Linked DNA regions of Homo sapiens: region 2 is linked to region 1. The links come from fine-mapping of genetic effects on gene expression. A gene starts in region 1. The other region holds a variant in brackets. All regions are shown on one strand. Distances are between the middles of the regions. Region 1 holds the start of MRPL28 (mitochondrial ribosomal protein L28). Region 2 overlaps AXIN1 (axin 1).

Evidence for each region. PIP is the estimated chance that this variant, and not a neighbour inherited with it, causes the effect. A credible set is the group of variants that fine-mapping cannot tell apart.
Region 2: its variant is the best candidate, but not a certain one, in a credible set for the expression of MRPL28 in whole blood (TOPMed, PIP 0.75).

Annotation. Positions count from the first base shown.
Region 1 is chr16:359,594-374,207 of GRCh38, forward strand. It overlaps MRPL28 (mitochondrial ribosomal protein L28), which reads right to left and starts at 10,945. Exons shown (of 6, transcript NM_006428.5): 1 at 10,906-10,945; 2 at 10,338-10,632; 3 at 9,475-9,627; 4 at 8,908-9,042; 5 at 8,735-8,821; 6 at 7,376-8,189. The coding sequence starts at 10,625. The coding sequence ends at 8,082. It overlaps PGAP6 (post-GPI attachment to proteins 6), which reads right to left. Exons shown (of 13, transcript NM_021259.3): 11 at 14,412-14,558; 12 at 13,018-13,134; 13 at 11,195-12,690. The coding sequence ends at 12,394. RefSeq lists enhancers at 1,281-2,129, 2,130-2,977, 3,606-4,113, 4,114-4,620, 12,675-13,246 and 1 more.
Region 2 is chr16:288,507-303,120 of GRCh38, forward strand. AXIN1 (axin 1) reads right to left here. Exons shown (of 11, transcript NM_003502.4): 6 at 9,216-9,745; 7 at 8,550-8,720; 8 at 4,982-5,212; 9 at 2,684-2,791; 10 at 934-1,101. Among named protein-coding and RNA genes, the nearest start is that of PDIA2, 13 kb to the left of the region's middle. The variant C/T (reference allele first, on the strand shown) is at 4,319.

The DNA.
Region 1 (14,614 bases):
GTGTCCCCCTGGGCAAAGTGATCGTCCTGACCTGGCCTCACAGCCCCAGAGGTCCGTGTGTGACCCTCTCTGACAGGCCGGGTGGCGGGATGGAGCCCACGGCTGGCCATGGACCAGGTCTGGTGTCCCAGGCACATTGTGAGCACAGGGCAGGGCCTGCTGGCCTCCCCCAACCTCAGTGCTGTTTTCCCAAAAAGAGGTGGCATCCAAGTGCAGGGGCCATGCCCCGAGGGGCCTCGCGCTGACTTCGGGAAGTAGCAGGTGACGTCCCACCTCCCTGGGCAGCCTCAGGCCGCTTCCTGTCCTTGTTGGGGGGACTCCTGCCCCTGCCACACCGACCACAGTCCTTGTCCCTGCTGTTCCCTCACCTGAACGCCCTTCCCTGCCCTGACGGCCTCCATCCCACACGCCTCTCCGGGCGCTGCCGCCCCCCCGTTGGTGCTCATCTGTCCTTCTGCCCACTATCCCCAGCGGCCCCGATACCTGCACACCCCAGTGCCCAGCGGTTCCCCCTCGAGCTGGCAAGGGGACATTAAATGGGAGGTGAGGAAGTGCGGCCCCCAGCGGGCAGCTGCCTTTGCCCCGGCCCACCTGCGCCCCCGCCCACCTGTGCCCTCCGCCGCCTCCCTCTGCTTGGCTGTCCCAAGATGTCTCTCTCCACTGCCTAGGAACCCTGAGGCCGCGGCCAAGTTCTGAGCGTGTGACTGTGTGTGCTGGGCCCCAGGCCCCTTTGTCGCCGCGGCGTCTGTCGTGGCAAACAAAAGTGAACCGGATTAGCCACAGTGGATTAAAAGATTTACGTCTCAGAGTTTACCTAATAACCTAACAATCGTGTCAACGGGAGCTTTGAACCCCCAGGGCGCGCCTGCCAGGCCAACTGAGAGCTCAAGGCCTCTGTGGGCAGCAGGACGTGGTCGGGGGGAGGAGACGCAGCCACGGCTGTCCTCACACCCAGCTCGGCCCCTGCGGGCTCCTCTGGGCAGAACCTGGGGAAGGCACGGCCTCTAGCAGGAGGTGGAGGCCTTTGAAAGGGTGCAGGTGTTGGGACCAGGTACCCGGCCCAGGCCCCCAGCCGCGTCCACACACGTCGCACACGGCAGCAAGGACGCAAGCAGTGTGGAGGTGGCCGCGTCGGCGACGTATGGGCCCCGTGGTGCTGCGGTGCACGACCTCTGTGCTGTCACCCCACAGTGTCCGCTCCTGCACGTACACGCGTGCACGCGCACACACGTGCACACGCACACACACACAAGCACGCCCCGCTTTGATCTCTAAAGGAGAGTCCATTGACAAGCTCTTAATCGCAGCTGCCCTTGCAGGGCCTGTCCCTGAAGTCCCGAGTAATGGGATTTGGCGCTTCTGATCCATCGGGCTGGCCGCTTCCCGTGTCATAGGTGGACATTTTTTTTCTTTATATCGCTTCTGTTTCTTTTTTTTTTTTCTCCTCGAAAAAATGCTGCTTAAACGGCACCGACTTGACATGGCTTGTCTCCTAACCTTGGAGTGGCGGCCGGGACGCCGGCCTGGATCAGTCGGGGGTCTTTGATGCCGCCTCCATGTGAAACCTGACGTGGAAGACCCACCGGGGCGGTTTTGGGGTCCGAGGTCCGTCAGGATTCATCCTGCCTCACCCTGCTCCCTTTGTCTCTTCCCCTGACCCTTCCTCGGGACACCCGGAGAGGGTCTGAGGGTGAGGGTGCGGGCGCTGCGTGTGGGCTTGCACTCGAGGGTGGGGTGGGCCGAGGGCAGGGCCGCAGCCGCGAGAACAATGGGCAGAGGAGGCGCGTCCACCTGTCCGCCCGGCCGCCTGCCCGGCTTACCTCACCTGCCTGGCTCCGTGTGCCTGCTCACGCCCCACCGTCCCGCTGTCCGCCATGATGGGCTTGGCCGTCCGTCCGAGCACTTTCAGCCACTCTGGGAAGCAGGTCCCTGCTCTTGGCCACTGTGTGGCTGGGAGGCAGAAGCGTGACTCTGGGCTGCAGCTCGGGCTCCTGCCGCCGATTGGCTGAGGCAGGGACCAGATGACGGGCCTCAGAACCCTATGGTAGCCATGGCAACCAGCCCCTTTAGACACCGCCACCCCCGAGCCACTCCTGACTGCTGAGGGAGCAGGCGGCACTGCCCGTGGGCCCATGCCAGGGTCCCCTTGGAGGAACGAGGTGGGCATGGCTGCATGGTAGCTGTCCCCACAACAGCTGTTAAGCGTTTCCGTGTGTTTCATTCATGTCCAGTGTGTGGGGTCCTTGCCCCTCTCCTGGCCTGTCCGGGGCCACTCTGTGCCCTGCCTTACCCCCAGCAGAGGCAGAAGCACTGGCCTTGCAGCCCCTGCTGAGAGGAGGACTTCAGGTCAGGCTTGCCTCAGGGGCTGAAGGCCAGGCCCAGTCTGGTGGGAAAATAAAGGGTGGGAGCAGTGGAAGCGGGAGCAGGGAGAACTTCCCAGCCCCACTGGGCAGAGCCAAGCTCTCGCCCACCTCAGACGGCAAAGGCTGCCAGCTTTCTCTCCGCCCACAGTCCACTCCGCCACCCTCTCGTTAGCTGCGGCCTGTGGAATACGTGCACGTGCTCACACAGTCCCGTCTCACAAGCCCCCTGAGGCCCCTCCCGAGGCCTTGCTCCCTGGACCTTGGGTTCCCACTGGGCAGGACTCTGGGTCTTTGGCCACACTGAGGAGACCGTCTCGCCATCAGTCACACACCTGCGGCTGCACCCGCTCTCCCCTGGGCTGCAGTGCCCTCTTGCGTCCCAAGAACGCCTCTTCCCTCCAGGGCGCACCAGCATTGGCCCCTGGCAAAGCTTTCCCGTATGTCTGGAGACGAGGCTTCTCAACCGTCACCCGTGGACATCCTGGGCACTGCAGGGCACTGAGCATCCCCGGAACCACCCCCTGCCCCCAGCCCCGTGACAGCCAGAAACAGTGTTGGCTTGTCCACGCGCTCTGACAGCAGCACTGCCTGGCCAAGACCCCTTCGAAGGCTTCCCCTAAGCCCGGGAAGCTGAGTCCCACTTCCTGGCCCAGGCCCAGCACCCGATGAGCAGAATCTGGTGATGAACAGCTGCAGGACTGCAAGGAGCAAGCGAGAGCCTTGGGCTGCTGCAGCCCAGGGAGGCCACTACCAAGGCCATCAGAGGGACCCGGGATCCAGGGGAGCCTGGAGCATGGTCCATGGGGATCCACCTTCAAGAGAGCGACTTCGGGGCCAGTCCCAGGGAACCGGGCTTGGCATGGGCCTGGGCGCCGGGGGTCTCGGGCCGCGGCTGCTCCCCCAGGACTCTGGGCGCCGGGGGTCTCGGGCCGCGGCTGCTCCCCCAGGACTCTGGGCGCCGGGGGTCTCGGGCCGCGGCTGCTCCCCCAGGACTCTGGGCGCCGGGGGTCTCGGGCCGCGGCTGCTCCCCCAGGACTCTGGGTCCGGATCCAAGCTTCTTCGCACTGGCCTGGTTGTGAGCCGCCTGTCCCAGGATGGAACCCGGCCTTGAAGCCCTTCCCATGCCATGCTCAGAGCTACCAGCTTGTCTGGGGACAGGATGTGGGTAGGGACACCATCCCAGGACAGCAGGCAGTGGTTAGGGAGGATGGTCCAAGGCTGGAGCCCGCCTAGGGAGGGCTGCGGGGCGCTGCGGCAGAGGGAGCCAGGACCGCACGGGAGCCCAGGCTGCTGGGTGTGGCCATGTGGCCAGGGTTCCAGCTTGGGTGGCTGGTGGGTGTCAGAGGGACAGGGACTCAAGGGAGCCTGGGAGCCCCACACAATCCAGCCCGTGCCTGGGGCCAGCAGAGGGCTGGAGTTACAGACGGGCACTGGTGAGAGGGCGAGGGCGGCCAAGGACTGAAGGTGGAGGCGGAGCCCTAAGCAGGCCCGCGGGACACACAGTGGTCTCCCGGCAGCTCCCTTGGGCTCCCAGCACCCTGACGGGGGCACAGGACAGGAGCAGAGTTGCCAAGCGACCCAGAGGGCCCGCCCGCTCTCCATGCCCTTCCCTCCACTATCCTGCTGCTCTGTGCACCTGAGCAGGACTCAGGAAGCAGGCGAGACCCTTGGGGTCAGGGGTCAGACATGGACTTGTGACTGGGTGCCTCAGGCCAGCCTCACATCCACTCCACCCTACCCTTCCTGGCCTTGGCTTCCCCGTCTCTATGTGGAGTGATGGGGTCACTGACACCCCTTCCAGTCCTCCAGTTTTCTACCCCCAAGGGATCCCTGCCCATAGCCGTGAGGGTCCACCCCGGAGTCCACCCTCAGGTCCACAGCCCATTCTCTGCCCGACACCGCGGCTGACTGTTGTCATGGAAACACATGGCCTCTGCCAAGCCTGGGACACGCGTGGGGAACTCCTGGCCCCTGAGGGCTCCGAGAGGCTGGGGCTGGTGCAGGCCGGCCCAGGGCAGCTCTGCCTCCTGTGGGGTTGATCTTGCTCTGCACAGATCCCTCTCCCACTCCAGGTGCCTGAGGGTCTGCACGCCTCAGTGAGGGAGAACTGGCCGTTCTCAGAGACGGAGTCCAACACTTCAGGAAGGAGCCTGACAGGTGTGATTGGTGAGGATGGCAGAAGGAGGGTCTGGTGGCCCCAGCCCGGCCTGGCTCTGGAAGGGGTGGGGTGGGCATAGGGAGGGCAGGGAAGGGGTGGGGTGGGCGCGGGGAGGGCGGGGTGGGCGTGGGGAGGGCGGGGAGGGCGGGGAGGGGTGGCCAGCAGCCATTCCCAGGTTGGCTGCCCGGGCTCCCAGCTCAGTTCTCAGTTCCCCACACACATGTTGGAGCCGGTACAGTCCCTGGGACCCCTCCCCACAACCCAGAAGGCAGAATAGCATGCTGGATCCAGCTGCTGGGTCTGTCCCAGACCTGAGTCACGGTTTGGTCTTGAGGGATGGGTCCGGCATTTACGGAAGGCCTCTTACCTTTTTCTCAGTCAAGGACTTTTGTGGCCTCTGACCAGAAAGTTGTCAGGGCCCTGGCCACACCCAGACCCCACCTCAGTCTGGCCTGGCCTCCCCTGCGGGAGGACTAAACAGCCATGGGTTCCATCGAGGTGACTGGCAGAGGAGGTAACCTGCTGAGGCCAAATGCAGCTTCTCCCACTGGCCAGCTGGTAGCCTGGTCCCAAACCCACAACCCTGAGTCAACACAAGTCAGGACACACTGATAAGCACGTGCCACCATGGCCGACAGGGGGACCGAGGCCAGCGCCTACCAGCCCATTGCCAAGCCTGGCCCCTAACTTCTTGGGGCCCCCAGAGTCTGACCCAGGAAGCCCTACAGGCCTTGGCAGGAGCCCTGCTTACCGTGGGGCTTGGTTGGGGTGGGAAAGAGCAGGTGGTGAGTGAGGGGCAGCCACCGAGGCCTGAGTTGGGAGGTGCTGGACACACACACCATCAGGGAGTCAGGGGCAGGCCGAGGGGCTGGAGGGGGCTTGGCTTAAGTTCACAGCTGAACACGGGAACTGTGCAGGGCAGGGCGTGGCCACAACATCCCAACTCTGGCTAGAGCTGGGGCACGGAACAGCACTCATGCTGTGGGCAGCTGGGCTGAGCCTCATGGCCCCACAGAGCTGACTGAGCACTGTCTGTTTTTCATAAAGTGTTTTTTTTTTGAGACAGAGTTTTGCTCTTGTTGCCCAGGTGGAGTGCAATGGTGCAATCGTGGCTCACTGCAACCTCCACCTCCCGGGTTCAAGCAATTCGCCTGCTTCAGCCTCCCAAGTAGCTGGGATTACAGGTGTGCGCCACCACACCCGGCTAAATTTTTGTATTTAGTAGAGATGGGGGTTTCACTATGTTGTCCAGACTAGTCTTGAACTGCTAACCTCAGGTGATCTGCCTGCCTCAGCCTCCCAAAGTGCTGGGATTATAGGTGTAAGCCACAGTGCCCGGTATGATTTTTATTTATTTTTTTGAGACGGTGTCTCGCTCTGTCGCCCAGGCTAGAGTGCAGTGGTGCGATCTCCACTCACTGTAACCTCCACCTCCCGGGTTCATGCCATTCTCCTGCCTCAGCCTCCCGAGTAGCTGGGACTACAGGCACCTGCCACCATGCCCAGCTAACTTTTTTGTATTTTTAGTAGAGATGGGGTTTCACCGTGTTAGGTCTCGATTTCCTGACCTCGTGATCCGCCCGCCTCGGCCTCCCAAAATGCTGGGATTACAGGCGTGAGCCACTGCGCCCGGCCTTTTTTTTTTTCTTTTTGAGACAGAGTCTCGCTCTGTCACCCAAGCTGGAGTACAGTGGTGCAATCTCAGCTCACTGCAAGCTCTGCCTTCCAGGTTCAAGCGATTCTCCTCCCTCAGCCTCCCGTGTAGCTGAGATCACAGGCATGTGTCAACATGCCTAGCTAATTTTTTGTATTTTTAGTAGAGATGGGGTTTCACCGTGTTGGCCAGGATGGTCTCTATCTCCTGACCTCGTGATCCACCCGCCTCGGCCTCCCAAAGTGCTCGGATTACAGGTGTGAGCCACCGTGCCTGGCCTAAAATTTTTTTCAAGGTCGTTCACAGAGCAGGGGCATCACATGAAGGCACTGGTGTGGGGAGCAGCAGGACATGTCGGCAGAGGTGCCCGGTGTGGAAAGAGACCTCGGGGGCCCTCCCAGGGCTCTGAACCAGGCAGGTCCTGACCCCAGGGACCCCTTGCGGCCCCGGGAGCCACGTGCTCCCCTGCAGTCCAGCAGGGCCAACTGCAGACTCCCTCTGGACTCTGCCACAGCCCCCTTGGGAGCCAGGGGCCCCTCAATCAGCCAGCAGGCCCACGTCAGGCAGCTGCCTCCAGTTCACCCCATCCTGCCACCAGCTGGGGCTGGCTTAGGCTCAGGGGACATAAACCCCCCCTTGTCATTCTGCACATGCAGCTGGGGGAGCCCTCCCTCTGTGCTCCCTGGGAAAACCGAATGGGTCCGGAGGATCAGGATTTCCAGGTAAGGGTTGGGGGAGAGGGTCAGGTACCCCCAAAACCTCAGGGCGGGAAATGCCTTAGGGTGCACAGCCCGGCTTCCCGCTGGCCAAACCTCCACCCTGCAGGTCAGGTGGAGGTAGCAGGAGGGGACACCAAGGTCGCAGGTCCCCAAGTTCGTGTCGCCCCCACCTCCTCTACCACTCGCCACAACAGTGCTGACCAGGGAGAGGCTCCTGACTCAGGCAGCTGCACCAGCACGGCCCTCTGAGGGCCTGCCCCTCCTGGTTCCTTCCAGTACCTGCAGAGCCAGACCACAGCCTCCCTTGCCCTGCTCTGAAGAATGTTCGAGAAGGGCAGGAATGTGCAATGGAGAGGGAATGGGCATCATCCGGCTGCACCCCTGGATGCCCCCAGCTACACCAGACCCTCTACCAGAGGAAAGAAAGACACAGAATACGGCCAGGGGAGGTGGCTCACGCCTGTAATCCCAACACTTTGGCAGGTTGAGGCAGGTGGGTCACCTGAGGTCAGGAGTTCAAGCCCAGCCTGGCCAACATGGTGAAACCCCTTCTCTACTAAAATACAATTAGCCATACATGATAGCGGGGTGCCTGTAATCCCAGCTACTCAGGAGGCTGAGACAGGACAATCACTTGAACTCTGGAGGTGGAGGTTGTAGTGAGTCCAGATCGTGCCACTGCACTCCAGCCTGGGTGACTGAGCAAGACTCCGTCTCAAAAAAAGAAAAGAAAAAAAAACACAAAACACAGAATTGAACCTCGCTCTCTGCAGCTCACCGGGGGACGGGCACAGCCAGAGTCAATGCCCACGGCTCATCCGAGGTCTCAGGGGCAGCAAGGGCAGGGGTGACAGGATCAGGATCCCCAAAGAGAACACCAGTCCTCAAAGCAAAGATACACACACACAGCCTGGCCCAGACTTTACTCGCTCCCGGCCCCACGGGCACAAGGAACACTGCCGCAAACGTCGGGGCCCAGCCTGAGAGGAGCCTCTGGGCGGCCCAGGCCTCCTGGGGATCCCTGCCAAGCTGGCCCCGGGCTGGAAGGTGCATGGGCAGCACACGAAACCAGGATCCACCCACTGCCCACCGGTGGCCCTCACAGCTCCCCGGGATCTGTGTCCTCAGTGCAAAGGGCCTGGCAGGGAAAGCTGGGCCTGTTGGTCAGGCATGGAGGAGCTGTGTGGTCACTGGCCACTGGCTCTCTTCTGCACCACCGCCGGCTCTGACAGTGCCTGCTGCTGCAGCTGCTGGATCAGCTCCGCCACATAGATCTTGAACAGGGGTACAGGGTCCTGAAGGAGAGAGGGGCTCATGGTGAGGCCAGGGAAGCCCAGGGCAGCTGGAGTTCCGACGGGGATGGGATCAGCAGCTGCCGCCCAGAGGAACCGGGGCATGAGAGGCCCTGGAGGGCAGAGTCCTGTCGGTGAGATGAGGAACCCCCTCCCTTGGGGATGCCGGAGGCACACACATACCCCTGTCCCATCCCTGTGGTCATGGATAAACAGAGGGAATAGGGGCAGCCAGCTGCCATGCCATCAGGGGCTCCCTGTCCTGACAGCTACCTCAGGCTCCAGACCCTGGGATGCTGGTGGCCGAGCAAACCCTCAGTGCAGGAACCCACTCCTCCTACTGAGGGTCCTGGGACAGAACAGGGTGGGGACTTGGAGGGGAGGGAGCGGGCCATGCTCCTCTGGGTGGGCAATGCAGAGCAGCAGCTCTTCCCCAAGCCCACCCAGTGCACCAGCCCCTTGTGCAGGCTCTCTCCAAGGCAGCACACTCCCAGACCCTGAACACCAGGCTCTGGGCAGGCAGCATCGGCTGGTGCTCACACACTCACCTTCTCCTCCAAAAGTCTCTGCTTCTCAATGGCCTCCTCCAGCGTGAGGCCCACCCACTCTGCCTCCTCCTCTGGGATGGCAAATTCCTAGGCAGGCAGAGATGGAAAGGGCAGTGAGGCCCAGGGCCGGGCCACGAGTCCCCAGGTGTAGGGAGCGGGACGGAAACCCTCACCTTGTACTTGTCGTAGATGGCTGCCCGCCGCTCGGGGTCCTCGGGGTGCAGCTGGGGGTCCTGCCGGGCAAGCCGCAGCAGCATCCCTCGCTTCAGGTCCATCCCAAACTTGGAGCACAGGTCCTCCTTCGGGGTCTGGCAGAAGGCTCACATGGGGCCAGGTGCTGGTGGCAGGGCCCCACCTACCCTTCCAGCCAACCCACCTGGCTCCTCTCTAGCCGCTGGTGGTCCCAGGACAGGACAGAGAAGGCCCGGGTGGGGCCGCCTCAGCACCCCAGCCTGGGGGGTGGGATCAGCACAGAAGCAAGTCCAAGTGCAGGGAAAGGGGCGGCTGTGCTCGCTCAGGCCCCACGGGCAAGTCAGCCACCCACAGAGCGACAGCCTCTCCTGAAGGCAGGAAACCCCACTGGTGCTGGCCAGAAAGGGGCATGGCCCCACTCACGCTTTCCCAGTGACCCTCCTGTGCAGATGTCAGCGTGCCCCGGTGTGATGCTGACCTGGGGCTCCCGTGAGTCTGACTGGCCCATCCCAGACCCTGTGTGCACTGACTCGCCCCACCCCGCTTGCCTTGAGGATGTAAAAGTCGAGCCCATAAGCCTCATCGATGAGGTCCAGGGTCCGCATGGTCACAGTCACTGTGAACTTCTTGTCCAGGATCTCACTGTAGAACTCTCGCTCAAACAGCTGTGGCTTCCACACTTTCTTCAGCCTCTTGGAGAGCTGAGGGTGCAACAGAGCCTCCATGAGTACTGCTGCTTTCTCTTACATACCAAGGGGGGCCCAGGCAACTGCCCTCACCTCCCCCCCGGAGGCTCCATCACAGAACCACTGCTGTCAGACTGGGGACCTAGAGCTAACTGGGCCGGCCCCCAGCCCAGTGCCGCCCCAGCCCGACCCGGGTCCTGACTGTGTACCCAGAAGTCAGCTGCTCCCCAACAAGCTGGGCGTTCCCGCCCTGGTCACATGGTTGCTGCATGTGTTTCAGAAACATGTGCGACCCCACAGTTTACAGGTTGTCACATTCCAACCTGGAGGTGACACAAGTCTCCCCACAGGCTTCAGCAGTCCCGCCAGGAAGTCCACCACAAGCAGCCTCGAAGCTCTGCTCGCCTCCCCCACCTGCTCTGCTCGCCTCTCCCACCTGCTCTGCTCATCACACAGGCCTCCTCCCCATCCTAACTTTACCCCGACTCCCCACGGCCTCTGGTTGCTCCCCCGGCCTGAGTCACCCCACCTCACCCCTACTTTATCAGTCCTGTTTGCCAGAACTGCGGTTCTTCACTCAGCGTGCTCCTTTGCCGGAGATGTGTCGCCTCCAGGCTGTAATCCCCAGGGCCCACCCAGGTCTCTCCAGGTACCCCGGGCGTCCGGCACAGAGCCGGCACAGCCAAGCCCTGAGAGGAGCCCCTGAAGGCCGCCTGCGGACCCACCTTGTCGTTGTTGGCATATATTTGGCCCAGGATCCAGCCCTCGCCGCCCCACAACCCCCGCTGGGATTCGGGGGGAAAGTAGATGGGAATGGGCACGTCCTCCACACGCTCCCGCTGCCCGTTCTTGGGGTTGATCTTGAACTTGGCCCCATGAGGCCTATAGTGCACGGGAGTGGGCGTCCGCTCCTCCTCCAGGGAGCGCAGGTAGTGGCCGGGCAGGCGGGAACAGATGCCCTCCCGCAGCTGCAGCCGCTTCCAGAGCCACACGGGATACTTGTGTAGAGGCATCGCGAGCCTGGCGGGAGGTGGGGGCTCGCAGTCAGTCGCAGCCTGGCCAGGCCCCCGGCACTCACCCCCTACCCCGGCCCCCGACTCTCACCCGCTACCCCGGCCCCCGGCTCTCACCCGCTACCCCGGCCCCCGGCTCTCACCCGCTACCCCGGCCCCCGGCTCTCACCCGCTACCCCCTACCCCGGCCCCCGGTTCTCACTCCGGCCCCTGTCCCGCACCCACCTGCCCCTCCCCTTCTGCCCCGGCGCCCCCCCACACCCCACCTGCCCGCGCCCACCTTTCAGGGTTCAGAGCCCACCGGAACCGGAAGCCGATCTGCCGCGCCTGGCCCTCCTCCCACCGCTGACTGGCTGTAAAAGCCATCCGTCTACCCCCTCGTCCCGCCCCGCTTCCGTCTTTAGGGACCGTAAAAAACACCCCACATACAGCAGCAGCAGCTCAAGGCACCGTTAGCTACGTGCGGCCCCGGCGTTTCCGCGAAGGGCGGCACGGGCGGGGCGGTGCTTGTTCTCCCGGGCCCCACTTACCCTACCCGGGAAGGAGCACAGAAAAAATGTAAAAACTCGTTTAGTTTGAAAAATCAATGTAGAATATTAAATTCACCAAACACAGATAGATCAGATCTACATAAAAATATGTCTTAATATCTTAGAATTTTCCTTTACTCCAAAAAACCCCATATATATATGTTTCTCCTTTATAAGCTTAGAGATTGCTTTGGTGGTCAAGTGCAGGGCGGCTGGGGGAGGTAAGACCTTCAGGAAGGCCATATCCCGGACAAGACCCAGAAGGGAAGCCCCCAGAGCCAAGGGTAGGAGGGCCCCACCCGGGTCTCAGCCACTCACTTCTCCAGGGCGGATCCGAGACACTCACAGGCCTCAGGGAGGGGCCAGGTGCTGCTCCTGGTCATTGCTTCCCCCACAAGGTTTGCATGAGGAGCAGAGACAGTCCAGTCTCCTGAACACCCACAGGGCACAGAGCCCAGTGCAGGGGGCAGACACCACCGCAGCTCCTGGGACCAAGAGGAAGCTCCCAGAGGGGGGCCCAGGAACGCTGGGGTGGGTGGACAGGGCTGGGTAGGGGTTCCTTCTGGGCCAAACCCCCAGAGCAGCAGAGCACCCCAGTCCAAGGAAGCTCTTCTCAGGGACCCAAGGCTCCAGAGCCAGGAAAAAGGGAGGGGCGGGGCGGGAGCCTGCATCCCCAGTGCCCATCAGCTCTGGGGGAAACCTCCGTCTCCCGTCCCTATGGTGACCACAGCAGCAGAGGGGGATCCTCCATGCCCCAGGCAGGCTGGCATCAGGGCCACACAGGGGCCAGGAGCAGGGGTCTCGGAGTCCACAGCTCCCGGCCCCAGTGGTGGGCTCAGGGCTCCTGGGCGCCATGGGTCTCACCACAGCCTCGCCAGGGAACAGGACCATAGGGAGTCCTTCTCCCCATCTCTAGCCACCCACAGGCCAGCAGAGCACACAGCCCCACCCTCGCACAGGCACCTGTGGTCTCCAAGTAACCAAGCCCAGGCCCCAGGGGCCACTGCAGACAGCAGCTGGGATCTGCAGAGGGATCTCAGCAGCGAGCAGGCAGCTGGCGAGGAGAGGTGCGTGTGAGGGAGGGGTGGCCCTCTCCTCAGTAGGAGGAAGTAAGAGGGTATCTAGGCCAATTTATTCAGCTGGAAATCAATCTGTCCAGGGCTGGACCAGGCGCCTCCCCCTCGATACAGCTCCTGGCTGAAGAGGTCATCAGAGCAGCAGCTGTCCCCAGGCCAGTGTCACGTCACTGCGTACAGTTCCTCCCGATCGTTCTTGCAGATCTGATAGTGGCAGGGGAATTTCTGCGAGCAGGCCCAGGGCTCGGCGGGCTGGTCAGGTGGCGGCAGCAGCAAGGCTGCGCTCCCGGCCAGCAGGATGTGCCAGATGCTGTGGGTGTAGTAGTAGTTGTCGCTAGTCATCATGGAGGTGTAGATGGCGATGCCCACAGAGGCCATAGAGACGCCGGGCAGGAGGTAGAAGGCCCAGCGCTGCCACGAGGTGGGGTAGCACTGGCGCCGGTGCCCGCAGCGGTAAGCCTGGAGAAAACAGCCACGCAGGTATCAGTGCAGGTGGGGCCGCGGCTGCAGCTCCCAGGGCCCAGATACGGTGGTTACTGGGGGCCTGCCCAGGTCTGGGCAGCAGAACGACAAGGGTGGGCTGCTTCGAGGGGGCTCAAGGCCACTGGTCCTCAGGCCCAGGCCTCAGGGACACAGCCATGCTGGGCCTCTGTGGGTGCCATGGCAACCCCCAGCAGATATGGGCATTCACTGGTTGGAGCAGGACCAGGAACGTGGCTAGAGCAAGGGGCCAGGCTCTCTTCTCCGAGCACCTGGGCAGCAGTGCCAGCCAGCCCGGCTCCTTACCCACATGGAGGCCATGATCACGAAGGCAAAGAGGCAGGGCCCCAGCATGTTCCACATGCCCCTGCGGTCCAGCTGCAAGGACATGGCGATGACCAGTGTACCCAGAAGAAACAGCACCTGCGCAAGACACAGGGATGACTGCAGGGACGTCTCTGAGGGCTCAAGGCCCAGCAGGAGCACGCGTACCCCACGGCCCCACAGCACCTCTGCCTGCCCCCTCGGAGCTGCTGCCACCCTCAGACCAGCTCTGCCAGCCTCTGACTAGCTCTGCCAGCCGGCAGGGACATGCCCCTCCTTCAGCTTCTGTATTGCATCCACAGGTGAATGTGGCCAGGCAGGCATCTCTGGGGGATTAGACGATGCTCACACAAACTGGACAGACGCATATGGCCGCTCTGCACCCACACACTCACTAGCCCCCTGTACCACTGGGTTTCTAGAAGTCCCCCATCAGGGTGGCTTCAGTCTCCCACCCACTGTTCCATGGGGAGGGGCTCCCACCCCCCAGTCTCCATCAGACACCTCTGCCCACAGCCTACAGTTCTCTGCCTATCTGCAGGTTCAGGCCCCGCACTCAGCCCTGCAGGACCCTGGTGCTTCCCAGCCTCCCCTCTGCCCTGGCTGTGGGGCTCCCATGGGCACCCCCTTGGGGCAGTACCCAGCCTGCAGTTCCCAGAGCAGATGGGAGGGCAGAGCATGCAGCTCACAAGCCCAGGGCATGAGTCTCCCCTTGCCAGGGCCAGCTGCCACAGAGAGTCCCCAAAGCATCATTGGCCCCAAGGACCCAGGGAGCATGGGTGGGGGCTTCTCGAAGGCAGGGGGCCTGGCCTCCCCTGCCTACCACCTTCCTTCCTGGCATCCTCCAAACAGCTGGCACTGCCCCCTCACAACTGCCTGCGGGGTCTCAGACCCGCATCTCCGTGTGGCATCACAGAAGACATGAGGTTTCTTTTCTTTTCTTTTGTCACCCAGGCTGGAGTGCAGTGCTGTGACCTCGGCTCACTCCAACGCCTCCAATGCCTGGGATCAAGCGATCCTCCCACCTTAGTCTCCCGAGTGGCTGGGACCACAGGCATGTACCACTACGCTCGGCTAACTTTTCGATTTTTTGTACAGCCCAGGCTGCTCTTGAACCCCTGGCCTCATGGGATCCTCCTGCAAGTGTTGGGATTACAGGTGTGAGCCACCATGCTCGGCCAAGGCATTACAGGTGTGAGCCACCATGCTCGGCCTAGGGATTACAGGTGTGAGCCACCATGCTCGGCCGAGATGTGAGGTTTCCAGGGGCCGTGCCCAACGCCAGGTCCGGCCTCTCCCACGGTACTGCCTTTCGCAGGCTGCACTTGGGGGCCCTGCTCCCCCGGAGCCCACACCCCACGTCGAGGGCCACTCACGTATTTCAGGACTGTCTTGAGCCGTGCCATGCACAGGATGGTGACCCAGATGGCCGCCCCGGAGCCCAAGAAGTCGCAGTACTGCAGCGTGTCGTAGCTGAGGATGCACAGCACCGCCTCCCCGGGCTGGTCGCAGGCGTGGTAGAACTGTGGGGAGGCTCCATGAGCGCGGTCCTGCCCTCCCACCCCACATCCCTGCAGGA
Region 2 (14,614 bases), 71 kb before region 1:
GCCTCTCAGGAGTTGCAGGGGGGAAGTGGACGGGTGTGGGGTGTCTGCTTCCCAAGGGCTGAGCCCCGTCATGGAGGTGACCCCAACTGGGGCCCTCCCTCAGCACCACATCTGCAGTCATGGGGTGTTTGCACAGTGGCTTGTGGACGGTGGGAACCACCCGCCAGGCTCTGCCAGGCTCTTGGGGTCAGGCCCCCTCTGCTCACCGCCCAGTGCTCACTCGGGAGCCTCCAAGGCTGGCTGCACGCAGGGCCCTGCAGGGCTGAGTGGCCCAGGGCGAATGAACCTTGGTAGGAGGGGGCTTGGCTTTTCAGTCAGGCAAAAGCACATGAGTCCAGAGCCTGGAGACAAGGTCGGCCTAGGGGAGCCTAACACAAGGTTCAGACCATCGTCGTCTAGGGGTCTGGCCTCTGTTTTCCCACCCCGAAGATGAGGGCCCTGGACGGGGGTCCCTTTGGACCCTCTCAGTCCTGTGGGGCCGAAAGCCTGATGCCACCCTCAGCCTAGGGCTTGGAGAAGTGGCTTTAGTTGCAGATGAGGGACATGAGCTGAAATGGCCGGAAGCCCTTTTTCTTCTTTTTTTTTTTTTGGGCGGGGGTAGAGACAGAGTCTCGCTCTGTCACCCAGGCTGGAGAGCAGTGGCGTGATCTCAGCTCACTGCAACCTCTGCCTCCCGAGTTCAAGCAATTCTGCCTCAGCCTCCCAAGTAGCACACCTGGCTAATTTCTTTAGTATTTTTAGTAGAGACGGGGTTTCACCATGTTGCCCAGGCTGGTCTCGAACTGCTGAGCTGAGGCAATCCGCCCACCTCAGCCTCCCAAAGTGCCAGGATTAGGACGTGAGCCACTGTGCCCGGCTGGAAACCCTCTTTTTCATACCGTTGGGCACCCACATACTCGTGCGGGGAGGGGGCACCCCAGCCCTCACACTCACCTGTAGCTGCCCTTTTTGGTCAGCAGCTCCTTGAACTGGCCCAGGGTGACAGCGCGGCCCCTCACCAGGGTGCGGTAGGGGATGGGTTCCCCGCAGAAGTAGTACGCCACAACGATGCTGTCACACGGCTGGGCACTCCCGCCGCCCACCTTCCTCTGCGATCTTGTCCTGGGGAAAGAGATGCAGCGGTGGTACCTGGTTTTGGACTGAGGTCCCACAGGGTCCCTCCTGCTGGCCTCAGGCTGCCAGTGTAAGGCGGGGCAGGCCTGCAGGGGTGAGCAGCACCCCATTCAAACACCTGGGGCCCGCAGCCCCCGCACAGCATCTCAATCTGGGATCTAGTCCGCTAGCAGTGGAGTCGGCTCCGCTCACTGGGAGCACGAAGGTCTCCCTGCTGCCTCACAGCCCCACCCTCGACTGGCCAGGGCCTGGCTGCCAGGTGCACTGCAGCTCCCACCTCTAGGATGGCAGGGCAGGCTGCAGGGCTCCTATCTCAGGAAGACCTACGGCCCCCAAACCTTAAAAACATCTGAAGGGCAGGGATTGGACAAACAGAACTGTGCACGATTTCTGGATAAGCCTGACCCCGCAGCGAAGTTTGTCGGAGGACTGGGGCGGGGGTGGCCAGCAGGCCCTTCAGAGGGGGCAGGGCTGGCACCGTCTCCTGCCCAGGCTGAGCCGGGCCCTCCTCTGACAGGTGCTGTGCTTCCACAGCCGTGCCGGGATGACGGGCGGGGCCTGGTTGCTCTCGCACCCCCCACTCGGCTACCCCGCCGCCACCTGTCCTTCAAGTGACTCCAGAAGCTGCCCCTGGCCCACTGGGGTTCAGCCCTTGGGCCTCCTCCTGGCTGGGTGCACCAGAGGCTTCCAGAGCCAACACCAGGGCAGGAAGGCCTCATGGCCACCTGAGCCATGTGACCATCCTCTTTGCACACCAGGCCCCCAGCCACGTGCGCTCTTAGACGTCCTCCCAGTGCCACATCCTCGGAGCCTCCTGGAGCCAGGCCCATCAGAGAAGAGCCAACACGTGGGGGCTGCCCCAGGGACAGGTGAAGGCTGCCCCAAGACCGCCTACACGATGAGGGCCACAACAAACCTGCATCTGGGGCAAGCCTGGCAAGGCCTGGGGGACCCTTGTTCTCAAGGCCCCTTTTGGGGTGTGCCCCCTCCTCCTGCCACCTTGAGCACATAAAGGCGCCGTCGACACGGCCCATGTGGGATCACATGGTCTGAGCCCTTTCTCACGGGTTCAGAGCAGTCAGCATTGTAGGTGGGAGCAGAGCCCCGACTCACTGACTGCACGGGCTGGACAGACACGCATGGCTGAGACCCACACTGCAAGCAGACGCACCCCGGGCACCTCAGCACCTGCAGCCCCGAGCCTGGTCAAGTCAGGCCTGGCAGGGACCGGCCCGTTCCAAGCCGGGTGGAGGCGCAGGCAGGTCTCTGCCCCACAGGAAGCCTGGCCGTGACACCTGTGTGGATGCAGGGGCTGGCTGTGCCCAGGCCTCCAGCCGGGCCTTTTGGTCACTTGTCATCATGCTGGACAGTCAGCGTCTCCTTTGATGGAGACAGGAGAAGGCTCTCGGGCAGCTTCGAGTCTGATGCCACGGGACCCTCTCCTGCCACAGCTGCTTCTGAGCGTGGTACCCGAGCTCAAGCCCCGGGACGGCGGCTCTACGATGGGACCTGGCTTGGGACGCCAGGGCTGGGGTGGGCAGGACCGGGAGGACCCTCAGGACGCACGTACTCTGTCTCGGAGAGCTCCATGTCCGACACGGCTGGTACCACGTGCAGCACCGGCGCGCACGCTGGCCTGACGCAGGCGCGTCCCCGCCGCATAACCTCCTGCACATACCTAGGGAACAACCCGCGTCAAAGGTGGCTGTGCCGGCGGCCACCAGCCCTGGGGAGGGAGCCTCGACCAATGCTGCTGCGCAGGGACGGACGGAGCGTGAAGGGCCCGAACAACCCACCCTGCGCAGGCTCCAGTTTGCAGGGTAGACAAGACACCGAGTCCCCTCCTAGGCCTGCCTTGGTGGTACCCGATACTGCAGCGCGCCCCACATTCATGATCCCGGCACCAACCCCCTGAGTTCCCTGGACCGCACTTTGGGGAGCTTCCGATCAGGGGTGCTGGGATCCCACCACCTCATCCCCTCTGGTGGGATGACATCTCGTCCCGAGAGTCTGTCCTTCAGTCTCTTGGCATGAATTCCCCACCGATAGCGTGGACACTGGCTCTGGGGCGTGCGTGGCAACTCGGTCTGCACCTCAGGGAGGCTGAGGGCCCCCCGGCGCCACAACTGAGGCCATCCTGGGGCAGCACAGCAGCTCCTCTCACGTGGACACCTCCACCGGGGTACACTGGGCGACCTTGATGGTGGTTTCTACTCTGACATCCTGACAGGGCCCAGCACCCAACCTGCCTCTGGGCCTTCACTCCGTCTCCACAGCTTCTCGCAAAAACCCACATCCCCTGGACGGACAAACCCAGCAACTCTGGGTTTCCCCATGGGGGGATGCTGGAGCCCAGCAGCCAAACGGGCGGGAGGGTCGTGTCTCAGAACGGCGGGAGTGGTCCCACGGCTCAGCGGGCATCCCCTGCCATCATGTGGGGCCACGGGTACCAGGGGAAAGCGCAGACGCAACCTGAGAGACCCCTGCTCAGCCCAGCAAGGATGGCTCAGGAAGCCCCGGCAGGAGAGCCCACACACGCCCAGGGCCTCGGACCTGCTGCACACGATGCCCACCACGGCTCATCTGCCAGCCCAGTCACACGCCCCGGCTCCGAGCACCACACTCCAGGCTCCTGCATGGCAGGGGGCTCCAGCTCCTTGTTGGCCGAACACGATCACAGGGTCACAGATGTTTGGTCATAAAGTGGTCACCCTTTGGGTTTGAGGTAACTGTGACCCTTTCTGGCCCCAGAGCTGTCATTAGGCTCACAGCCTGGCAGAAGCTCAGGAACCTTTAATGACTTGAGACCACACAGGCTTTCAGCTGGGAAGGGTCTGAACCCTGATGCTGGTTCGGCAGAATAAGGCCCCTAGCCACAGCCTCCCTGGAGTGGCACAGCCCCAAAGCTGGAGGCCCGGGAGGCGGGCCTGGACCCCAGGCCCCAGGTGACCCAAGGTGGACAGGAGGAGCTGGTGACCTCTGAAGGCAACCATGGCCTCTGTGACCACAGCCCCAGGGCCTGGGTGAGCTATAGGCTCCCAGGACCCTCAAAGAGACACTGATCTGTGGGGAATTCCAATGACCCAGGATGGCCGAGAAAACTGGCCTTATGAGCAAGCTGAAAATGGAGAAGCCAGGTTCTGGCCTGGAGCGAAAATGCTGCCCACACAAAGGGGAGACCTCCCTGCAGCCCAGACAGAAGCCT[C/T]CCTGCCCTAGGGAGAGAACAGGGTCTGGCTACGGAGCCCAGAAGACCAAGGAGGGCGCAGTGAGGAGGGCTGTGGGCTGGACGTCCCGGATGAGAGAAGGGCACAGTGAGGAGGGCTGTGGGCTGGACATCCAGGATGACAAGAGGACACAGCGAGGAGGGCTGTGGGCTGGACGTCCAGGACGACACTTCTACATCTGCACGGCTTTCAGAACCACGTAGCTTTCCGACCGTGCAGAGCCACTCAGGGCTCCTGGGACGCAACTGTCAAGAGGCAGCCGCCATGCCTCCAGGACCTCTGCCCTAAAGCCCAGGCTGCCCAGCAGCGAGCAGCCTCTGGCTGGGGACCGGCGTTCCCCACACACTGGGGCCCTGCAGCCTCCCTGCAGACTGGGCTCAGGTTGAGGAGGGACCCCGCCTCCAGAGCAATGAGCGCGGCGGCCTCGGGTGTGTGAAAGCTCCAGCCCCAGCCTCCGTCCACCGCAGGGTGGCCTGCCACGTGGCCCCTCAGTGGTTCTCAGTGGATGGAAGGGCCCAGTATGGCTGGGGGACACCCAGAGGGCCGTTTTTCCCCTGAAGACCTCAGGCCTCGGGGAGCTTCAGCCCCAGGAGTGGTGCTGTGGTAACCCCCAAGACCCACCCCACCCCACGACGCGGCCGTACCTCTGCTTGGAGGGTGCTCGGCTGGCTCTCTTTTCTTCCTCCTCCAGACGTCGGCGCGCCTCCTCCAGCTGGGTTAGGGGGTTGGGAGCTGGGTGGGGTGGCATGGTGGGGTCTTGGATGAAGAGGTGGGAGGGCTGCACGGAGGTCCGGAGCTGAGGGCCGGCCCAGGGGTGCTCAAGGGACAAGGGTCTGGAGTTCTCATGGGGCTGTGGCTTCCTCGTCCCCGAAGACCTTGGGGAACAAGAGAACAAGTTGTGACTGTGGCCGACACCCTGGCCAGGTGGCCTGGTGGGGCTACACTCATCTCACAAGGGCAGCCTCCTTGAGGGATAGGATGGGATGGGGCACTGGGGCCTGGCCACCAAGCCACATGGACGTCCTCCACAGACCACACAATAAAAACATCCCGGCCAGGCATGGTGGCTCACACCTGTAATCCCAGCATTTCGGGAGGCCGAGGCGGGCAGATCACCAGAGGTCGGGAGTTCGAGATCAACCTAACATGGTGAAACCTCATCGCTACTAAATATACAAAATTAGCTGGGCGCCTGTCATCCCTGCTACTCTGGAGGCTGGGGCCCGAGAATGGCTGGAACTGGGGAAGTGGAGGTTACAGTGAGCCGGGATCACGCCACCGCACTCCAGCCTGGGTGACAGAGTGAGGCTCAGTCTCAGGAATAAAAAAGACAACAAAAAACCAACCCTCATTTGCCTGTAATCCCAATACTCTGGGAGGCCAAGGTGGGTGGATCGCCTGAGGTCAGGAGTTCAAGAACAGCCTGGCCAACATGGCAAAACCATGACTCTACTCAAAAAATACAAAAAATTACCCAAGTGTGGTGGTGGATACCAGTAATTCTAGTTACTCGGGAGGCTGAGGCAGGAGAATCGCTTGAACCTGGGAGGCAGAGGTTGCGGTGAGCTGAGATTGCACCACTGCACTCCAGCCTAGGCAAGAGTGAGACTCCATCTCAAAAAAAAAAAAAAAAAAAAAAAATGGCCAGGCGCGGTAATCCCAGCACGCTGGGAGGCCGAGGCGGGTGGATCATCTGAGGTCAGGAGTTCAAGACCAGCCTGGCCAACATGGTGAAACCCTGTTTCTACAAAAATACAAAAAGTTAACTGGGCATAATAGTGGGTGCCTGTAATCCCAGCTACTCAGGTGGGTTAGACAGGAGAACCACTTGAACCTGGGAGGTGGAGGTTGCAGTGCGTTGACACTGGCCTGTTGCACTCCAGCCTGAGCCACAGGAGCGAAACCCCATCTCAAAAAAAAAAAAAAAAAAAAAAAAAGGCCAGGCGCGGTGGCTCACGCCTGTAATCCCAGCACTTTGGGAGGCTGAGGAGGGCGGATCACGAGGTCAAGAGATCGAGACCGTCCTGGCTAACACGGTGAAACCCCACCTCTACTAAAAAAATACAAAAAATTAGCCGGGCGTGGTGGCGGGCGCCTGCAGTCCCAGCTGCTCTTGAGGCTGAGGCAGGAGAATGGCATGAACCCGGGAGGCGAGGCTTGCAGTGAGCTGAGATCAGGCCACTGCACTCCAGCCTGGGCAACAGAGCAAGACTCCGTCTCAAAAAAAAAAAAAAAAAATTCTTTCATGGAGACTTTTTTTTTTTCTTTTTTTGAGACAGAGTTTTGCTCTTGTTGCCCAGGCTGCAGTGCAATGGCTCGACCTCGGATCTCGGCTCACTGCAATCTCCGCCTCCCAGGTTCAAGCGACTCTCCTGCCTCAGCCACCGAGTAGCTGGGATTACTGGCACTCGCCACCACACACGGCTAATTTTTTGTATTTTTTTTAGTAGAGATGGAGTTTTTGTCATGTTGGCCAGTCTGGTCTCGAACTCCGGACCTCAAGCGATCCACCTGCCTCGGCCTCCCAAAGTGCTGGGATGAGGCTTCTTTTTTTACATTTTATTTTTAACAGCTTTACTGGGATACAAATTATATACTAATCCTAGAGGCCGGCGGATAGCTTTGAGTCCAGGAGGCTGAGACTGCAGTGAACGGTGTGATTACACCACTGCACTTCAGCCAGGGTGACAGAGGGAGACTCTGTCGCAAAAAATTAAAAAAAAAGTCTTAATGAATAAAAAGTATAAGTATGTCTCAAAGTGGAATGTATTAATACTTATCCTAAAATATGGGACATGCAATATTTAGTATATACAGCTATTTAAAAAAAGGATTCGGCCGGGCACGGTGGCTCACGCCTGTAATCCTAGCACTCCAGGAGGCCGAGGCAGGCGGATCACCAAAGGTTGGGAGTTCGAGATCAGCCTAACATGGCAACCACCCCCTGCCCCGGTCTCTACTAAAAATACAAAAATCAGCCGGGCGTGGTGGCTCACGCCTGTAATCCCAGCTACTCGGGAGGCTGAGGCAGGAGAATTGCTTGAACCCAGGAGGTGGAGGTTGCAGTTAGCCAAGATTGCACCACTGCACTCCAGCCCGGGCGACAGAGCTAGACTCCGTCTCAAAAAAAAAGACTCGAAGGCCAGGAATGGTGGCTCATGCCTGTAGTCCCAGCATTTTGGGAGGCCAAGGTGGGAGGATCACTTGAGCCCAAAAGCTTGAGACCCAGCTGGGCAACACACTGAGACCCCCTCTACAAAAAATGAGCCAGGCAAGGTGCTGTGCACCCCTGTTCCCTCGGGAGCCCCAGAAAAACGATGAGCCCGTCCCCACCTCAGTCAGCACCGATGGGGACCCCAAGGCCTTGCGGGACAGGCTTCCAACACAGGCAGGAGGGCCACGCCCCAGGCGCTCAGCTGCCTCACAAGTTCTCATCAAGTAATGTGGAGGGAGATGCGTCCTGGCCAGGGCCTGGGTGAGGGTGGGGGGCAGATCAGGACCTAAGTCTGAGGAAGCTGGGGCCATCCACCCACCAGGGCCAACACTTCCCAGCTGACCTGCCTCTGACCACGACAGGAAGGTGGGGGGTACCACCTCTGTGGGGCCCCTGGCCCTCCTGCTGGGTTCCGGGCACGAGTGCAGGCCCAGGGGGCGAGCAGGAGCAACACCAAGACCGGCCCGGCGGGCAGCGGCAGGGGCTGGACCTGTGGCGCCGGGGCCTTGCTCCACACCACACACGAGGCCTCTGCCCTTCTGGGAGGAGAGAAGTGCTCACGCTACACAAGAGCCTTCCCCAGCCCTCAGCAGGACGGCCAGGTGTGAGCACAGAAGGCTCCTCCGTGGGCACCTCGGGAGTGATGGTCAGTGGGGGCCTTCCCAGGTGACTTAGGTCATTCTCATGTGGGGGTCAGACTGGAAATGACCTCCCGAGAGCATCTGTGCTGCCTGCGGGGTGACAGCCACGTCAGCTTCCCTCCTGCTCGGGGCTTCAGGGACAGCCTCTCTCTGGGGACATGAGGTTTTCCTCCTGGAGACGTGGGGCCCAGGGAGCCTGCTGGAGGGTGCCCGGGAGGGTGCCACAGTGACAGGGGAAGTGTGAGGCGTCACAGGCGACACTCGCCACACACACTGAAGCTGCACACACTGAGACTGTGCGGAGGCCAGGGGTGGCAAAGCAGGCCCCACGAGGCTGGCTGCGTGCGGGGTGCTCACCCGTGGCCGGTCCTGCGGTGCCTGCTGATCTCCTTTTCCCCCTCAATGATCCACTGCATGATTTTCTGGTTCTTCTCCGCATCCTCCGAGGCACCTGGCACCTCGGTGCTGGCGCTCTTCCCCGACTCAGCCTTCTTGGCATTTCTTTTGCACGCCACGCCCACCTTCCCACTGCAAGGGCAAGAGCTGCGAGTCGCCCTGGCCTCCGGTGGCCGAGGCTGTGCCCCTTCCTCGTCTGCGAGGCCCCCTCCTGGCATCTGTAAGGCTCCCGTGGTGCAGCCGCCGCCCGCTGTCCCCTGCCCGCTTGTCCCCCACCCGCTGTCCCCCGCCAGCTTGTCCCCCACCCGCTGTCCCCTGCCCGCTGTCCTGGTGCTGTCTGGGGGTTGGTTTCCTCTCTAAACACACAGGCAGTCACTGCTCACCCCCTGAAGACTGAGGGCCAGAGCGGGAGCCAGGGTCGGGCTGTGTCCCCTAACCTTCATCTCCCACCTGAGGTCACGGCGTGGACTCCCCTGACCCAGGGCCCAGTCCACTCCCTCCAGCAGAGGGGCCTCCTGCCTGTTGCTGGCGGTCCTGGGTTTCCTGAGTTTTATGAGGAGGTTCTGGCCTTCTGCAGGGACACAGCCTCACCCCAAGCCCCCTCCTCACTGACAGGCGCACGCTCACCTGTGGGCGAGGCCATCACTGGCGTTGGGGGCAGCGCCAACACTCTCTGAGTAGCCTCGGGACCTTGCCCCATGGCTGTGTGGTTCCAGGCCCCAGGCGAAGCTGCTCTGGGCCCTGCGGGTGGCCTCGGCCTCCACCTGCTCCTTGGGCCGGGCTGTGCTGTGGTGGACGTGGTGGTGGACGTGTCGGTGGTGGTGCAGGCCGGCCGCGTCCAGCTTCGCCCCTGACTTGGGTACGTGCTTCCCGTGCCCCGAGGCGGCACCCCCCAGTGCCACTGGCATCTTGGCCACGTGCCCACTGTCCGGGGAGCGATGGCCAGGCCCAGGCGACTGGCGGCCAGGTGTCCTCAGCACACGCTGTACGTGCTCGTCCAGGATGCTCTCAGGGTTCTCCTCGTGTGCATCCCGGAGCCCGGCACAGCCCATGTCCACACAGCGGGGCGGGAAGTGGTGCCAAGCGGGGGCGGGAGGCAGCTTGTGACACGGCCCTGGGGGCCCTGACGATGGATCGCCGTCCTCACCTTCCTCCTCCTGTGTGGGGACAAGCAGCACCATCACCTCTCAGCACCAGCTGCACACTTGGGGAAAACAAAAAGCATCAGGCCTGACCCAGCAGCCCCAGCAGATGCCGTCCCAGCCCAGGGTGGCCGGGGGCCCCTCGCCACCGGTCCTGTCCCTGAGGATGGAGAGGCAGGACGGGGCATAGACAGAAGGAGCGGAGACAGCAAGGCCTCAAGGAATGCAGCGTATGTATCGGCTGTGGGCAGAGCTCTGCACAGATTTAGTTTAGTTTTATTCTTTTTTTGAGACAAGTTCTTGCTCTGTTGCCCAGGCTGGAGAACAGTGGTGTGATCTCAGCTCACTGCAGCCTCCGCCTCCTAGGCTCAAGCGATCCTCCCACCTCAGCCTCCAGAATAGCGGAGACCACAGCCGTGTGCCACCACGCCCAGCTAATTTTTTTGTACTTTGGGGACAGATGCGATTCTCACCATATTGGCCAGGCTGGTCTCGAATGCCTGAGCTCAAGCAATCTGCCTGCCTTGGCCTGTATATATATATATTTTTTGAGACAGAGTCTTGCTCTGTTACCCAGGCTGGAGTGCAATGGTGCCATCTCGGCTCCCTGCAACCTCTGCCTCCTGGGTTCAAGTGATTCTCCTCCTTCAGCCTCCCAAGTAGCTGAGACTACAGGTGTGCGCCACCACACCCAGCTAATTTTTGTATTTTTAGTAGAGACAGGATTTCACTATGTTGGCCAGGCTGGTCTCGAACTCCTGACCTCATGATCCACCCACCTCGGCCTCCCAAAGTGTTGGGATGACAGGCATGAGCCGCCGCGCCCGGCCTCCCATTATATTTTAAGGAGAACCTTGTACAGAACGGCTCTTGGGTTATGTACATGTTGTGATGCTGCCTGACGAGCTTCCACATGAAGCCGGTGGAGTTTCACTTGATTCTCCAAGTTAACAGGTGCTGAAGCTTATCTGTCAGAGCAAACATTTGATCACTTTAATTCCAAGTTGCATCTCATACTTATTTTCTCATCTTATTGGACTGACAAACTAAAACAGTATTGAGTAAATCTGGTGTCAATACAAAAGAAAGAGAGGGAACTAAGTTACCATGTATCTATGTATGTATTTATTTATTTAGAGTCAGAGTCGCTCTGTCAGCCAGGCTGGAGTGCAGTGGCACGATCTTGGCTCACTGCAACCTCCACCTCCCGGGCTCAAGCAATCCTCCTGCCTCAGCCTACCGAGTAGCTGGGATTATAGGAGTGTGCCACCATGCCTGCCTAATTTTTTTGTATTTTTAGTAGAGACGGGGTTTCACCATGTTGGCCAGGCTGGTCTCAAACTCCTAACCTCAGGTAATCCACCACCCTCGGCCTCCCAAAGTGCTGGGATTACAGGAGTGAGCCACCACAACCGGCCTATTTATTTTCATTTTTTTGAGACAGAGTCTCGCTCTGTCACCCAGGCTGGAGTGCAGTGGCACGATCTCGGCTCACTGCAACCTCCGTCTCCCGGGTTCACACCATTCTCCTGCCTCAGCCTGCCCAGTAGCTGGGACTACAGGTGCCCGCCACCACGCCCGGCTAATTTTTTATATTTTTAGTAGAGATGGAGTTTCACCGTGTTAGCCAGGATGGTCTCGATCTCCCGACCTCGTGATCTGCCCACCTCGGCCTCCCAAAGTGCTGGGATTACAAGTGTGAGCCACCGTGCCCGGCCTATTTTTATTTATTTAATTTTTTTTTGAGACGGAGTTTCACTCTTGTGTCCCAGGCTGTAGTGCAATCTCCGCCTCCCGGGTTCAAGTAATTCTCCTGCCTCAGCCTCCCGGGTAGCTGGGATTACAGGCACCCACCACCATGCCCAGCTAAATTTTTTGTATTTTTAGTAGAGACTGGGTTTCACCCTGTTTGCCAGGCTGGTCTCGAACTCCTGACCTCAGGTGATCCACCCACCTTGGCCTCCCAAAGTGCTAGGATTACAGGTGTGAGCCACCACACCTAATCGCAGTGGTGCCATCACAGCTCAAGGCAGCCTCAACCTCCAGGGGTCAAGCGATCCTCCTGCTTCAGCCTGCCAAGTAGCTGGGACTACAGGTGCATGCCACCATGTCCCATTAATTTTTTCTTTTTCTTTTTTTTTTGTAGAGATGGGGAATCTCACTATGTTGTCCAACCTGCTCTTAAATTCCTGGCCTCAAGTGATCCTTCTGTCTTGGCCTCTCAAAGTGTTGGGATTACAGATGTGAGCCACTGTGCCCCACCTACCTCTATATTTTAATATAAACAAACCTCCCAACGTTTAGCACCCAACTCTCACACCTGCAAAAGTATCCAAATGCAACTGGAACAGGCGTGCCCCAGAGCTGGTGTGGGCTTGGCTGCGGGCACCTGCACTGGGGCTGAGGGTGAAATATGGCACTAAAGAGGACAGACGGATGCTGGAGCAGAGCCGGGGGACAGGTGGGTGGTGGGCATCCCCTGGCGGATGCAGCTATGCTGCCTCCCTTTCCTTGGTTTTGTAGGACTAAAGGGCCCGGGCACTCTGGGGAGAAATCTTAACCGAGGGTCTTCCTAGGGACTAAAAGTGTTTGGAGTTTTGATGCCGTTCACTGCCTTGGCCGAGCTCCACATCGGCAGGAATTCTATCATGGGGCTGTGAAATGTTACAGATTAACTTAACCACTCGGCTAATGGTTTTTGTTTTCTTCTTTGTGCTTTAATTTCCCAAATTTCACAATGAAAATAGGTTATTTAAAAAATCTGGAGTTCACGCCTGTAATCCCAGCACTTTGGGAGGCCGAGGCGGGTGGATCACAAGGTCGGGAGATCGAGACCATCCTGGCTAACATGGTGAAACCCCGTCTCTACTAAAAATACAAAAAAATTAGCCGGGCGTGATGGTGGGCGCCTGTAGTCCCAGCTACTGGGGAGGCTGAGGCAGGAGAATGGCGTGAACCCGGGAGGCAGAGCTTGCAGTGAGCTGAGATCGTGCCACTGCACTCCAGCCTGGGCGACAGAGCGAGACTCTGCCTCAAAAAACAAAACAAAACAAAGCAAAAAAAAAAAAAAAACTGGAGTTATTCCTTTTAGGGAAGGACCACCACTCCTGGGCCCTGGTGGTGCTGGATCCACACACCTGTGGGCACTGCCATGCTCCCTGTTGCTGGGACAGAGCCAGGACTCCATGGGGTGGGGAAGCCTTGAGAGTCACAGGTGAGAGCCACACACTCAGCACCTGTGGCTACGCCTGCCTTTAACATGTCTTGCTTAAGGCCAGGCACGGTGGCTCGTGCCTGAAATCCCAGCACTTCGGGAAGCTGAGGTAGGAGGATCACTTGAGGCCAGGAGTTCAAGACCAGTGTGGGTAATATAGCAAGATTCCATCTCTACAAAAATATTTTTTTTAAAAAATGTCTCACTCAAAATGGGAACCTGCCCTACTAGAAGCACACCCTGCGAACGGGTGAAGGCGCAAAGATCAGAAAATTACAGACGGCCAACATGACAGCAAAGCGTTCCACAGAAAATTACAGCGGCCGGCGACCGACACAACAACAAAACAGCAAAGGCTTCTGCAGAAAATGACAGCGGCCAACACGGCAGCAAAACAGCAAAGGCTTCCTTTCTTACGTTTCTGTTGTGAGCATGTTTGTTTAAGGGCTGCTAACCTTCACCTGCCACCCAAATGATGATGCTGACGTCACAGCCCGTGGGCCCGGATGTGGCCTGCGGACATGTCCATATTCTTGGTAACTCTGTTCCCAATGTTTGGTTTTCAGACAACAGCCCAGTAAGGCTCCCAGGCAGGCCCCAATGCCGCTGGCCTCAGGTGCGCACAGCCAGCCTCCTCAGGGCCACCCCAGGAAGCAAGCGAGCCGCTCCAGTGACCACCAGGTCTGCAAGGCGAGGCCTCACTCTCACCGCCACAGGGACCACGCGGCACTGATGCTGCTCCTGCCAGCCCTGCGGCCCCGGCTAGGTTCCCGATATTGGAGGACAAATTCCCTGAGTCCTTTCCTTGGGGGACTGTGGAGAAGGTGAACTTGGCACCTGCAGAGCCCTGGAGCTGGCACCACCCACACCTGTGCCCTACCCAGATGAGGGTCACCCTCAGACCAACGGCCAGGGGAGACGAGAGGATGCAGCTCCACATGGTGGCAAAACAATTTACTGAGGATAAAACAAATCGACGTCTGTGTGTGAGACATTTCCACACAAACCCCTTCATGGGGAGCTCCACCATCTGCAGCGACCACACCTGGTCCCCGCCATGAATCCCAGCTGCTCAACGAGCTATGTAAGGTCTGCCTGCCATCTCAATGGAGTGCCCGGCGCACGGTTTCCCAGATGGGCACCACCAGCGGCACCCTGCGTCCACCCTCACGGTGGCATCTCCAGGCTTCAGGGCACAGCTCACCCGGGTAGCGGGTGAAAGAGTGAGTGTACCGAGGGGTCTCCTGTGGTCTGAGGAGAGCTGAAGGTCTGCATTTTACATCAAGGATCAGGTGAATGGAAACGCTCAGAAGTGTATACATTTTCTAAGTATTCATATTCACGAACATTGAAAGGAGAATGAAGGACCACCCCCCGACTCGATGGTGCCCACTGACCTCCCATAGGAATTAATCTGGCTAAGAGAAAAGCAAAGGCATTTTTTTTTGGCACCCAGGCTGGAGTGCAGTGGCACAGCCTCGGCTCACTGTAGACCTGACCTCCTGGGCTCAAGTGATCCTCCCACCTCAGCTTCCTGAATACCTGGGACCACAGGTGTGTGCCACCACGCCCAGCTAATTTTGAAATTTTTTCTAGAGACAGGAATTTGCCACATTGCCCAGGCTGGGCTCAAACTCCTCGGCTCAAGTGCTTCACTCGCCTCAGCCTCC